Linked DNA regions of Homo sapiens: all the other regions are reported to be linked to region 2. Evidence: microRNA targets listed by miRTarBase, many of them from high-throughput screens and not tested one by one. Region 2 holds a microRNA gene; each other region holds the end of a gene's coding sequence.

The links. Region 2 holds the annotated microRNA hsa-miR-3160-5p (GGCUUUCUAGUCUCAGCUCUCC, at 1,395-1,416, shown strand). A microRNA usually pairs through its seed, bases 2 to 8, with sites in the 3' UTR of a target mRNA and lowers its output. Matches are read on the target gene's strand: a 7mer-m8 pairs with bases 2 to 8, a 7mer-A1 pairs with bases 2 to 7 and ends in A, and an 8mer does both.
Region 1: miRTarBase lists SRRM4 as a target of hsa-miR-3160-5p. The part of its 3' UTR that is shown has no 7-base or 8-base seed match.
Region 3: miRTarBase lists RFFL as a target of hsa-miR-3160-5p. Seed matches in the 3' UTR shown: 8mer at 1,360-1,367 and 7mer-A1 at 915-921.
Region 4: miRTarBase lists SKA2 as a target of hsa-miR-3160-5p. Seed matches in the 3' UTR shown: 7mer-A1 at 1,286-1,292, 7mer-m8 at 1,694-1,700 and 7mer-m8 at 2,085-2,091.

Annotation. Positions count from the first base shown.
Region 1 is chr12:119,156,299-119,159,411 of GRCh38, forward strand. SRRM4 (serine/arginine repetitive matrix 4) reads left to right here. Exons shown (of 13, transcript NM_194286.4): 13 at 197-3,113. The coding sequence ends at 500. Among named protein-coding and RNA genes, the nearest start is that of HSPB8, 21 kb to the right of the region's middle.
Region 2 is chr11:46,450,159-46,453,271 of GRCh38, reverse strand. It overlaps MIR3160-1 (microRNA 3160-1), which reads left to right and starts at 1,383; the gene lies at 1,383-1,467. The region is part of intron 11 of AMBRA1 (autophagy and beclin 1 regulator 1); the gene reads left to right. It overlaps MIR3160-2 (microRNA 3160-2), which reads right to left and starts at 1,465; the gene lies at 1,385-1,465.
Region 3 is chr17:35,009,403-35,012,515 of GRCh38, forward strand. It overlaps RFFL (ring finger and FYVE like domain containing E3 ubiquitin protein ligase), which reads right to left. Exons shown (of 7, transcript NM_001017368.2): 7 at 1-2,747. The coding sequence ends at 2,566. It overlaps LIG3 (DNA ligase 3), which reads left to right. Exons shown (of 20, transcript NM_013975.4): 20 at 1-341. It overlaps RAD51L3-RFFL (RAD51L3-RFFL readthrough), which reads right to left. Exons shown (of 7, transcript NR_037714.1): 7 at 1-2,747. Among named protein-coding and RNA genes, the nearest start is that of LIG3, 30 kb to the left of the region's middle.
Region 4 is chr17:59,109,513-59,112,512 of GRCh38, reverse strand. SKA2 (spindle and kinetochore associated complex subunit 2) reads left to right here. Exons shown (of 4, transcript NM_182620.4): 4 at 168-2,656. The coding sequence ends at 236. The region is part of intron 1 of LOC124904039 (a long non-coding RNA gene); the gene reads right to left. Among named protein-coding and RNA genes, the nearest start is that of TRIM37, 4.1 kb to the right of the region's middle.

The sequences.
Region 1 (3,113 bases), not on the chromosome of region 2:
CAAGACATACTAGCACTAAGCTGAGACTTTTACTTTGATGTGTTCTCAGCACTGCAAGAGAAGTGGAAAGGGAGTATTTTTTCCTAAGGGACTGGGGAAAGGGAGGATATTGGTTTCCCTTGGGACAAGACTGGGGCTCGCTGCGGGGAGGCACGGAGGGGCCGGCCCTCATCCCTCCTCTCTCTGGTCTCTGCAGTGCCCGGAAACGCCCCATCCCCTACTATCGGCCCAGCCCCTCCTCATCCGGCAGCCTCAGCAGCACCTCCTCCTGGTACAGCAGCAGCAGTAGCCGCTCGGCCAGCCGCAGCTACTCCCGGAGCCGGAGTCGGAGCCGGAGCCGGAGACGGAGCCGGACCCGCACGAGCAGCAGCTCTAGCTCCCGCAGCCCTAGTCCGGGCTCCCGCAGCCGGAGCCGGAGCAGGAGCCGGAGCCGGAGCCGGAGCAGGAGCCAGAGCCGGAGCTACAGCTCAGCAGACAGCTACTCCAGCACGAGGCGCTAAGTGCCCCTGAGCCAGCTGCCCGTGGGGGCCCCTTCGCGCTGCCAGCCTCCCCCAACCACCTGCCCTCCCCGCCTTCTTGGTGACAAATAGTGAGGGCTCCTATACCTTGTCCTTCCTGCTTGCCTAGGGGAAGAGGAGAAGAGGGTAAGGGGGCTTCACTCTCTAGATCAGCCTGCTAGGAGCCTCTACCAGCATCATCCTGGGGCCCAGCTCAGGCCTGGGCATATGGAAAGAACCATCATCTTGTGGCACAAAAAAAGAAGAAAGAAAAGAAAACTTCAAGGTTTTGTGAGAAGCAATGGGTCTGTGACTCAAAAATTGAGCCCTGGCCAGGAAAATGTGGAGACAGTTCTTCTCCTCCACTGCTCACAGGAGGCCCGTGGTAATTCTCCCCACCTCCCCGGATGCCCCACTAGTCCAACTTCATGGCTGCACGTGGATGGACCCCCATGTCTGAGAGGGGTGAAAGAGGAGACCAATGGCAGTTCAGGTTCAAGATAACGGGGTCAGGCCTTTAACTTCCTCAAACAGGCCCAAGCAAAGGCTGGAAGACATTTGGGTCCTAGAAGAAGGGATATCCTTGAATACCAGATGGGGACGTTTGACTTGGTGGGAGGTGTCAGGAGATAGGAGTTGGTTAAGATGATAGATAGAAAAACGGAAGGGTTCAGCTGCTGCTCCCAATACCTCAGCATGGTAAGGGGACAGAGCCCAGCAGATCCCAGCTGTGAAGAGGCCACTGCATGGCTGACACAAAACACCTCTTGGCCATTCACAGGGGCCCTGCAACCTCACGAGAAAGGAGATAGTGGAAGAGTCAGGACAGGTTGGTCTCCAGCCCCACTTCCCAAATATGCCTCAGCCCCACTAGCTGGCACCAACTTAATTCCACGGGACCATCTGCTGAACATTCCCCAGTGCCATGGCCAGTTGCCAGGCCCCAGCGCCAGCCAGTCTGGCCTTACCCTCCGGTTGGCGCCTGCCAGCCCCCTCCCCTCTGCCCAGGCTGCCACGCCCTGGATGCCACCCAGTGCAGCCTGGCACCTACCCACCCACCCTTCAGCTTAAGCCACTCCCCTTGCCTCTCAGGAATTTTGCCAGGATGGGGCACAGCAGCTCAGGTTTGGGGGAAAAGACCCGAATCCAGAGTGCAGGGGAGAGGGGCTTGGATATGCCATGTCTTGGGCTCCTGCTGGCTTCTGAGGTTTCTTGTCAGCTTGGGAAAGACCCACCTTTATTTTTGCCCTCACCCCAAGTCCCCCCTGGCTGGGGCTGGGCAGAGAGGGTAAGCTGATCTCCGATCCACAAATACCACCAGCTGCTTCATCCACAGAAGGCGCTAAGAACGGGGAGGTGAGGAATAAGATCCTTAAAATAAACTCTTGGGCATCCCCCTCACCAGCTGACTGGCTTTCCGGAGGCTTGTGGGTGAGTTTCAAGTTTGTGGTGGCAACAGCAGCAGGACAGGGCACGGAGGGAGCGAGGGAGAGAGGACCGGTCCCAGCTTTTGGATATTTTGGGTTATGGGGAAGCAAGGGCCAAACATTCTTTATCCCTCCCACCCCAGGGAAAACATTTGGAAAATAGTCCTTTTTCTTGGAAGCAGTGACGTCTCCCTACCCAATCTTTCCCATCCTATCAACCCATGGGGCTAGAGACTGCCATGCAACCACCACCACGACAGCCCTTCCTCCATCAGAAGACAGGAGTGAGGGCCCCGGGCAGCAGTGGACGACCCAGCCTCCCCATACCGGGCCTCTGGCCCAGACCTAAGCCCTGCCCACAAAGACTAATGGATGCCAGTGCTGTCACTGCAGAAGGCCAGATGGCAGGTGCCTGGGACAGGGGCAGGTGCCCCGGGGAGGGCAAGTACAGCCACTGTAAATAACCCTCGTCCCTGCCCAGGAACCCAGACTGGACTTCAGTCTCCCTCCATGGAGACAAAGGCTTCCCAGAGCCACCAAAAACCTTCTTAGCAGGACAGCTGTGAGAGGCATCAGAACCTCACGTTCGGACTGCCTTCATCAAGACAACTCTAGGGGACCATTTTGCCTGGGGCTCCTAGCAAACCTTTTTATTTATTTTATTTATTTATCTATTTATTTATTTGATGACTGTCTCTCTTTCTCGCCATTAGCAGTATTGAATTATTTATTTATACAGAGGTTTTGTGTGTGTGTGTGTGTGTGTGTGTGTGTGTGTGTGTGTGTGTGTGTGTGTTGGGGGGATCTCCTAAATTATTTCTGTGCATCTCCTTTTTTTTTCTGCTGTTTTTTATGGATGGGATTTGAGAGGCCAAAGGTGAGTGGGCTATTGGCCTTCTCCCTGAAGGCTCTAAGCCTGGAACACCCTGGGGTTGGCCCAGAAGGAGGCACATCAGTCCCAAAATTCATCACTTAACCCAGCGTCCAGGAGGGTCAGGCCTGTACCCCAGCCTCCTGTCCCCCAGGAACCTCACAGGGGTATCAAAAAGATGTAAACAGCCCAGAGGCTTATGAGCTACAGTGATGAATTGACACAGTGGAGTTGCAACTTAGGTGGGGGTTGGAGTCGAAAGTTGGCAAATGGGGCCAAGGCTGCACAAAGTCGAAATCCCTTGTGAATGTCCCTTAG
Region 2 (3,113 bases):
AAAAAAAAAAGTGAAGTACTGAAACATGCAATAAGCGTGGATAAACTTTGAAAATGTTATGCTGAGTGAAAGAAGCCAGACACAGAAGGCCACCTACCATATGATTTCATTACATGAAATGTCCAGGAGAAGCAATTAGTGATTGCCTAGGGCTAGGGCAGGAGTGGGACAGAGTAAAAGGGAGTGACTGTTAATGGGTACGGTATTTAGGGGAGATGAAAATGCCTGAAATTAGACAGTAATGATGGTGGTTGTAAAATTTATTTGCTGATGGTTACATAACTGTGCGGATATGCTAATAACCTTGAATTGTATACTTTAAAATAGGTGAATTGTAAGTTATATCTCAGTAAAGCTATAATTTTAAACAGACAGACACACATATATATTTGGGCATTTTTCTCAATGTCAGAATCATAAATGAGAACTCAGAGAAACTTGGGACACTTCTAAGCATGGAAGAAGTCTTCTTATTTGTCATCAGGGACTTTTTCCAGGTACCAGGCTATAGGATACATTGACTGTGATTTCAGATTAGATTAAATGATGATTAGAGTGAGTGTGACTGAGTACTTAGTTATACCCCTTTCTTAGGACAGATTTTAAGACTGCATTTGAATGAAGCTTTCTGGAAAGAAGATTAAGTGTTCTTCCTAGGATGCCATGCAGATATACTCAGAAAGGGAAGATGGTTCCCTTGCTCTGAGAATTATTTTTTGTAAACAGAAGCCAGTGTATTTATTTACAGAGAGCTCAGATAATCCATAAGAGAAAAGTTAAAGTAACCAAAGCTAGGTAGGGTAGCATGTGCCTGTTGTCCTAGTTACTGGGAAGTCTGAGGCAGGAGGATCACTTAAGGGCCAGGAGTTCAAGGCAAGCCGGGCAACATAGTGAGGCCCCATCTAAAAAACAAACAACAACAACAACAACAACAAAAAACCTTAAAATAACAAAGGTTTTTAAAATGTACATAAGACACTAGTAGACCATCTAAAAGATACACAGTGAGCTGGTAAACAAATGAAAAGATGTTCACCAATACTCTTAATTATTAAGGAAATGAAATGGATCCAAAAAATAGGATTACCATTTTTTACTTCACAAATTGATAGACATTTATTTGAATAGTGTTTTCTTAATAACAGCATTATTGAGATATGATTCACCTACCATACAGGCCACCTATTTAAAGTATACATTTCAATGGCTTTTAGTATATAGAGTTGTGCAGTCATCACCTCTATCTAGATATTTCATATCATCTTTATCACCTCCTAAAAAACCCCATACACATCAGCAGTCACTTCCCCTTTCCCTCTCTCACATCCCTCCAGCCCAAAGCAACTGTCAATCTGTTTGAAAAGTTGATAAGTTTTTCAGTTGGACCTGCCCTGGGCTTTCTAGTCTCAGCTCTCCTCCAGCTCAGCTGGTCAGGAGAGCTGAGACTAGAAAGCCCAGGGCAGGTTCATATAACAGCCAAGCAGAAAGATAGTAATTGTGTCTCCAGGATGATGAGTGTTTACATCCCCAACCCCATTCTTATTTCATCTTCCCAGCAGCACACAGTCAGAGATGGCCATTCTGAATTAGAAAGTCTCAAGTTAAACAGATTTTTCAGGACTGAAATGTAATTTAATCATTTCCTTCTTTGCAACTTGCCCTTTTTTACCTTCCCCGAATTAGCTTTTCTGATAGATTTGCTAATGATTCCCATTGTTCAGTATCTTCACTGAACTGTTGAATCATACTTTTCATTTCCCTTCTCCTAGAACAAATCTTAGAGAGAAGCTGTGAAGCTGTTTTGAAAAAAGATTCCTAATTCTTTCCAAGCAACAGAAGAGAAGAGTTTCTGAGAGAAGCAAAGGTAGAGAGATGCACAGAGGCTATTAGGCTTGGCAGAGCTCACCTATCATGTGACTGTGATGATTATTATGATTTTATCCCTAGACACATTCTGGGAGCTCTGGCCTACAAGTTGAAGACCTGACTCTGGAATGAGACTTGGCAGCTTAGTTTTTGCCATTGTTGTTGGCTGATAGTTAGCCAGGATCACTGGATTTAAGCTTCTTTTCCTCCTTGTTTTGTCTGTCATCAGAATAATCTTTATTTCTTCTTTTGCTCTAAGCCTCAATGAAAGGAATTTCTGTGGTTATATGATAGATATGAACTACCATGACTAGTATTGTCCTTATGAACAGCTGCTGTTCCCACTGTCTCCTAGAATGTGAATGAAAGTCGTGGCCCCTCCCTCTTTTTTAGGTTTATTAAAAGTTGAGTGGAAAATACAGACAGTTCCCATATACTCCCTCCCCTTACACCCACAGGCTTCCCCACTGTCCACACCAGTGTGGTACATTTGCTGCAGCTGATGAACCAACGTAGACACATCATTATCACTCAAAGTATGCGTTTACATTAGGGTTCATGCTTGGTGTTGTAAATTTCACTGGTTTTGGCAAATGTATGTGCCATGTATCCAACATTGTAGTAACATAGAAAATAACTTTACTGCTTAAAAAATCTCCTTGTGGCTGTACATGGTGGCTCATGCCTATAATCCCAACACTTTGGGAGGCCAAGGCAGGTGGATCTCTTGAGTTCAGGAGTTGGAGACAAGGCTGGGCAACATGGTGAAACCCCATCTCTACAAAAAATACAAAAAAAATCAGCTGGTCATGGTGGCACACACCTGTAGCCCCAGCTACTCGGGAGGCTGAGGTGGGAGGATCATCTGAGCCCAGAAAATTGAGGCTTCCGTGAGCCGTGATTGCACCACTGCACTCCAGCCTGGGCAATGGAGTGAGACCCTCTCTCAAGAAAAGAAAAAAAAAAAAAATCTTGTGCTCACCTGTTCGTCTCTGCCTCCCTGCAAACCAACCCCTACCAACTACCCATCATTTTTCTGTCTCTATAACTTTTCCTTTTCCAGAATCTCATACAGTTGGAATCCTATAGTATGTAGCCTTTGACTTCTTTCATTTAGTAACATGCACTTAAGGTTCCTCCATGTCTTTTTGTGGATTGATAGCTCATTTCTTTTAGCATGAATAATATTCCATTGTATGGATGTGCCACAGTTTATCCATTCATCTCTTAAATGAAGAACATCTTGG
Region 3 (3,113 bases), not on the chromosome of region 2:
AGCAAAAGCTACGGAATAATTCTAAGAATTAGATGTTTCCATATCATTAAAACCAAGGATCCATGAGGGGCAGAAGGGAGGATTCAAAGATTTAAAAAAAATCAAATTTTAGACCTTGGTTAAATATTAACTGGAATGGGATCTTGGAACTCCCAACTTTAATTTGGTGTAATAAAAATGATGCAAAAAAAAAAAAAATCAGGGTTGTTTGACACCTTTTTTCCTAAAGGGAAACCTTCACCAAAAGGGGATAAAAGATTTAAAGGCAAAATGAGTAAACAACCTCAGTTTTAATTCTTACTGAGGTTACTAACCAGCTATCAGTATATTATTTTCGATTTGTGTCTAGGAGGGAAACTGAAGAGGAGGTAAGGCTTCAGCAGAGAAAGCAGGTTGTAAGTAGAGAGCCAGCTTCTGCCCTTAAGTTACTGCTAGATCTTAGCTGAATTGCACATACATAGACCTGTTTTACAGAGGAACTGAGTAGCTGAATGAATGATCCTTTGCTAATTGGTAGGCATTGTAAACTATAGTATTTACTGCCCATGACAAAAGTGGAAAGGGATGTCTTCATGAGCAAATCTGATTCCCCCAACTCCTGCAAAGGCTGTGGTTCAGAATCAAATCATCCAGGACTTTGTATAACATTGAGGTAAGTGGCCCAGTGTTCAGTTGACTAGTTTATGCAGTTATTTCATTCCTCCAAAGGGGTTTAGTGGTTGGTGATGGAAGAAAGCATAAATATGTCTGTACCAATGTAATAAGTCCCTTTAGAGGTTTCCCTCTGCCATCCAGAGTCATGATTGGTTCTAGTCTCAGATTTTTCAGCTGCATGGGAGGGGTAAGGGGTGGGAGGTGTCTGCCAAGGCGTTTAGGGTTTGCATAGTTCATCCATTGGTAATGGGAAAACACTCTGCTTTCCTGATCATGTGTTTTGTGCTTGGCCACGCTTCTGCAGCAAACTCTTAAGTCCTCCAGCTCCTCTAGGGGTGTAAAGACTGTGAGGGCTCAAATACATCACCTACTCATTGCATGGTCCTTCCTAAAGAGCCTAGAAAATGGTTTCTCCTGCTGGGTGTGGTGGCTCACGCCTGTAATCCCAGCACTTTGGGAAGCTGAGGCGGGCGGATCATAAGGTCAAGAGTTCAAGACCAGCCTGGTGAACATGGTAAAACCCCGTCTCTACTAAAAATACAAAAATTAGCCTGGTGTGGTGGTGGGCGCCTATAATCCCAGCTACTCTGGAGGCTAAGGCAGGAGAATAGCTTGAACCTGGGAGGTGGAGGTTGCAGTAAGCCAAGACTGTACCACTGCACTCCAGCCTGGGCAACAGAGTGAGACTCAAAAAAAAAAAAAAAATGCTTTCTCCCTGACCTGCCCCCAAAAATCAGTGGGCTAGGAAAGGGAATGAAAGTAGGGTCTCCTCACTCCCCACCAACCTGGGAAATAAAGACTTGAACTGTCGGCTTACAACAGAATCCAGTCTCATTCAGTACCTCCTGAAAGCTCTTAAGTGCTCTGTCTTAACATTTGCTCTCCAGGAACTTCAACAGCAGTCTGGCCAGAGAAGAGCACAGGCTCTTTGCCTAAATCTATTTCTTCAATGAAACCAAATTTAAAACTACCATGGATAAGGGAGGGATTTCATTTTCAGCGAAAAGTGGCTTAAGACTTCTAGTTGGGAAAAGGATCAGAAGCCAAGCCAAAATTAAGGAGAAGGCCACTGCCTCCACCCATTGCTTCCCCTTTCCGCATAAACTAAGGATGGTGCAAATCAGGTCCCAAGAGAAGCAGCAGCAGGGATTATGCACGCACTATCCCTTGCAGACAGAAACAAATTTCCCAGCAGTTTGGGAGCCTGATGTTTTGTTGGCTCCCAGAGTCAGGTCAGGAGACCAACAGCTTCCAATCCCAGCATTTAATGAAGTGGCTTTTAACAACTTTGAAATTTTTCTATAGCATTTGTATTTCATTTCTCACCAAAGATAAGTTTACTGGTCTAAAATCTGTCCTAAGGACCACTATCGGTCTGGTAAACTAACATTTTTGGTCCAAAGAAACAAATGGATTTAGGCAATGTAGCAAGAGACTTTAGCAAAGATAGTTAAAGCACAGAAAGCCGGAGAGACCAGAAATTTAAATCCGAATGTGCTGGGGAGGAGGACTTCTGATTGATGAAACACATGGGCAAGCATCTCCCATATGGGGTGGGGATGGGTTGGGTACAGGAGGAGGGGTGAAACTGTCTAGGTTCAGGGAGGAAGACAGGACCCAAGTTCTGGAAAGTTCTCTGTTCATCAGTTACCATCATCACTCCAAGATCACTGAACCAAGAACATACCCATGTGATTTATACAAGTTCCCACTGGCCTTGGGCTTTGCCAGCCAAGAGGTACACCCCTGGGAAGACAGGCATGCTCAGGGGTGACATGGCATCTTGCTTGACCTGGTTTTGGGAACCCTGCAATATTTCTACTAGCTTGCTCCTCTGCAAGCTGGCCAACCCTGAGCCCAGACACCCCAGGCTATTTCCCTGTAAGGCACTGAAGAAACCGATGCAAGCTCTCAGGACCGGAAGACATGCACAGCTCGGATTACATACTGCCGGCAGATGGGACATTCATTCATGCGCTTGCCACACTTGGTACAGGTTACCATGTGGCCACACTCCAGAAGAACACAGTCAATGGGTGAGTCCATGCAGATCTTACACAGGTTCTCCTCCAAGCCTGATGGTACTGCTCCCCCTGTACAAACACACAGGGCAGAAAAAAAGGGGCAGAGGAGTGAGGAGAATGTCTTAAGTGTATAGGGGTGACTGGGGGAGGGAGGTGGGAGATAACAGGTACATTGTAAACAAAGTCTCAGTGCACATGCTTCCCTCAAATAGAGCTCCTCCGAGGAAACATTTCCTCAATAACCAACTCTGGTTACTTGTTTAATCCACACTTCATCCCCTCCAACAGGTAAAGATTTGAAAAGTACACAGCACTTGTGGATCAGACACATCCCAGAACATGAGAACTAAGGCAAAGTTCTCAAAGCTTAAAAGAAATAATTTTCAGACTGTTGGGGCTGTAATATAGTGAGTGTGTGAGTGGCACGTAGGGACT
Region 4 (3,000 bases), not on the chromosome of region 2:
TATAAATAGCCAAGTATCTGTTTTTTCCCTTGCCTTTCTAAATCTGTGATTACATACATAGTATAAGCTTAGGGAAACATTTATTGGTGTGACAATGCAGAAGTTAACTAAACTGATTTAAGTCTTTGAAAGTTTTTGAAATAAAGATTTTATCATTTATTTTCTAGCTGTCACCACTGACTAAAGAAGAGAAAACTGCGGCAGAGCAATTCAAATTTCACATGCCAGATTTATGAAGAAATGGACTTGGAAAGGAAATTCTAACAGAGAAGAGCTTAATTCCGGAGAAATTTAGGAAGATGTCTTGTTAACCCTTGATGTCTAGAGATTGGGGGCTGGTGAAGGGGGTTTGGCTTCAATGACTGGATAATGATATCTTTCATGAGAGAGATTATAAGAAGAAGGGCAGATAATATATGAATAAAGTTCAGCCAAAAGGATCAAATGAGAATAAAACGATTTAAATATATGTACACACGCATGCACACACACACTTAGTCTTGTAATTTCAGGCCAGAAATTCTCAACACTATTTTGCATCTGTTTTCTTTTTCTAAGTCATGATAATATAGATGTTCTGGTCTATCATAAAAGAATGTTTATGTACATTTCAGTCATTCGGTATGTGGCTTTGTAAATTAAAGTATAGGCAAAACATTTGTGTTATACATGATATATAATTTCATTTTGTAAATGTTGATTGCACATGTGGTCACATTATTGTTGAGACTGCTTTTATGTGACCTGTAGTCTCCCACAGAACCTAAAGTAATAAGCTGGCTTTTCTGTGATAGCCACGTTTGCGTATTTCTTTCCCTATTTCCCTTGCCTGCTAATGTTGAACAGCATGAACTTGCTTTCTGATGCTGTTTTAGACTGTCCCTGTTGTATCTCAATAATATCTTTGTTTTCCTTCAGCCTTTATTACTATAATTGTTCATTCTACATGAAAGCTAGGAAACTGAAATTAGAAGAGCACTTATCTGCTACTTGCCAGTTTTGCGTGAGTGTGTTATATGTATGTGTCAATTTCCCTTTAAAATAACTATTTATTTTAAAATAACTATTGGCAATAAGGAAACTGTTCAAAGTAGAGGCAGATCTTGATAGAAAGATGTTAATCACAGGGTTGTTTATAATAGCAATATACATACACATTTGGCTAGTACTAGGTGAATAGGAAAATAAATCATGCTGTATGTATACAATAAGAGGTCAAGTTGCCAATAAATTATTACTGTTAATGTTCTGGGAAATGCTGAAACTATGCTAAGTGGGGGAGAGGGAAAGCAGGTATTGCAGTTTTGTAGTGAAGATTGGGCTTTGGAGTCATATCTGAGATGTAAGTAGCAGCTTTTAAATTCTAGCTATGACCCTGTGCAGATCACTTAACTTTTGAGTGTCAGGATGTTTGGAAGGACAAGACAGGAAAGTGTTTTAATACAGGGTTCAGTATTTAGTAAGCCTTCAATAAGTGATATTACATACATGTAATAAAAACTAAGCATTGAAAGGACTAGGAAAAATGCATCAAATGTTAGTTCTGCAGGTTATAGAATTATACTTTTATGTAATTTTAAAATTTCAGTTATGAACATGTTTGTCCATTAACAAACTTATAATAGCTGAAAAACAGGGTTGTGAGAACAGCTTCAGTTAAAATTGTCCTGTCTAGTTTGAATATTTCAAGAACAGAAAGCCTTTTTTTTTTTTTTTTTTTTTTTGAGACGGAGTCTCACTCTGTTGCCCAGGCTGGAATGCAGTGGTACGCTCTCAGCTCACTGCAACCTCCACCTCCCAGGTTCAAGCAGTTCTCTGCCCCACCCTCCCGAGTAGCTGGGATTACAGGCGCCCGCCACCACGCCCGGCTATTTTTTTGTATTTTTAGTAGAGATGGGGCTTCACCATCTTGACCAGGCTGGTCTTTAACTCCTGATGGTGATCCACCCACCTCGGCCTCCCAAAGTGCTGGGATTACAGGCATGAGCTACCGTGCCTGGCCCCCTTTTTTTTAATTACAGAGAAATAAGTTACACCTTAGTATCAGATATTAATTTTCTTCAGTGTTCAGGCAATTAGTATTTAGAAAGCTCTTGTCATGAGATGGCTCTGGGATGTGATGATGATTGTTGGGATTGAAAAAACGGTAGTATCATGGAGAGATCATAATAAATTCTTAGTATTAAAAGTGGTTTTGCTTTCAGTTAGGGAGAAAAATTAGATTGTACTATTTTTCCTCTATGATTTCCTTCAGTTATCTTCCAAATGTTGTTTTTTCCCCACAGCCCCCTTAACATTGTTCTCTATGCACTTCTCAATACATTTTCATTTGTTTCTCAAGCCTCTTTGTGGATGACTCCTAAATATAACTTCTTCCACTAGCTCTAGATCCGTATTTCCAATAAAATCCCCTACCTGAATATTCAAGTTAAACATGTCCAGAATACTTACTGATTTTATTGTTAATAGCCACTATTCTGTTGTCTGGAATTAAAACCTGTATAACTAATTTGCATCCCTTTATCTTCTTAGTCAATAAAACCTACAATCCTCTTTCTAAAATGGTCATAGTATACAACCTCTACATTATCTTCACACCTCCTTAATTTAGATCTTTTGTTTCTCATTTGGATTATAATTGTTTTCTCCTATGTGACTATAGTGTCTTTATGTCTTAAGTTATAAATAATACATGTTTAAGAATTTAAAAATCACAGGCATGGCCGGGCATGGTGGCTCACGCCTGTAATCCCAGCACTTTGGGAGGTCGAGTCGGGCAGATCACAAGGTCAAAAGATGGAGACCATCCTGGCCAACATGGTGAAACCCTGTCTCTACTAAAATTACAAAAATTAGCTGGGTGTGGTGGCACGTGCCTGTAGTCCCAGCTACTCGGGAGGCTGAGGCAGGGGAATCGCTTGAACCCAGGAGGCGGAGGTTGCAGTGAGCTGAGATTGCGCCACTGCACTCCGGCCTGGCGACAGAGTGAGACTCTGTCTC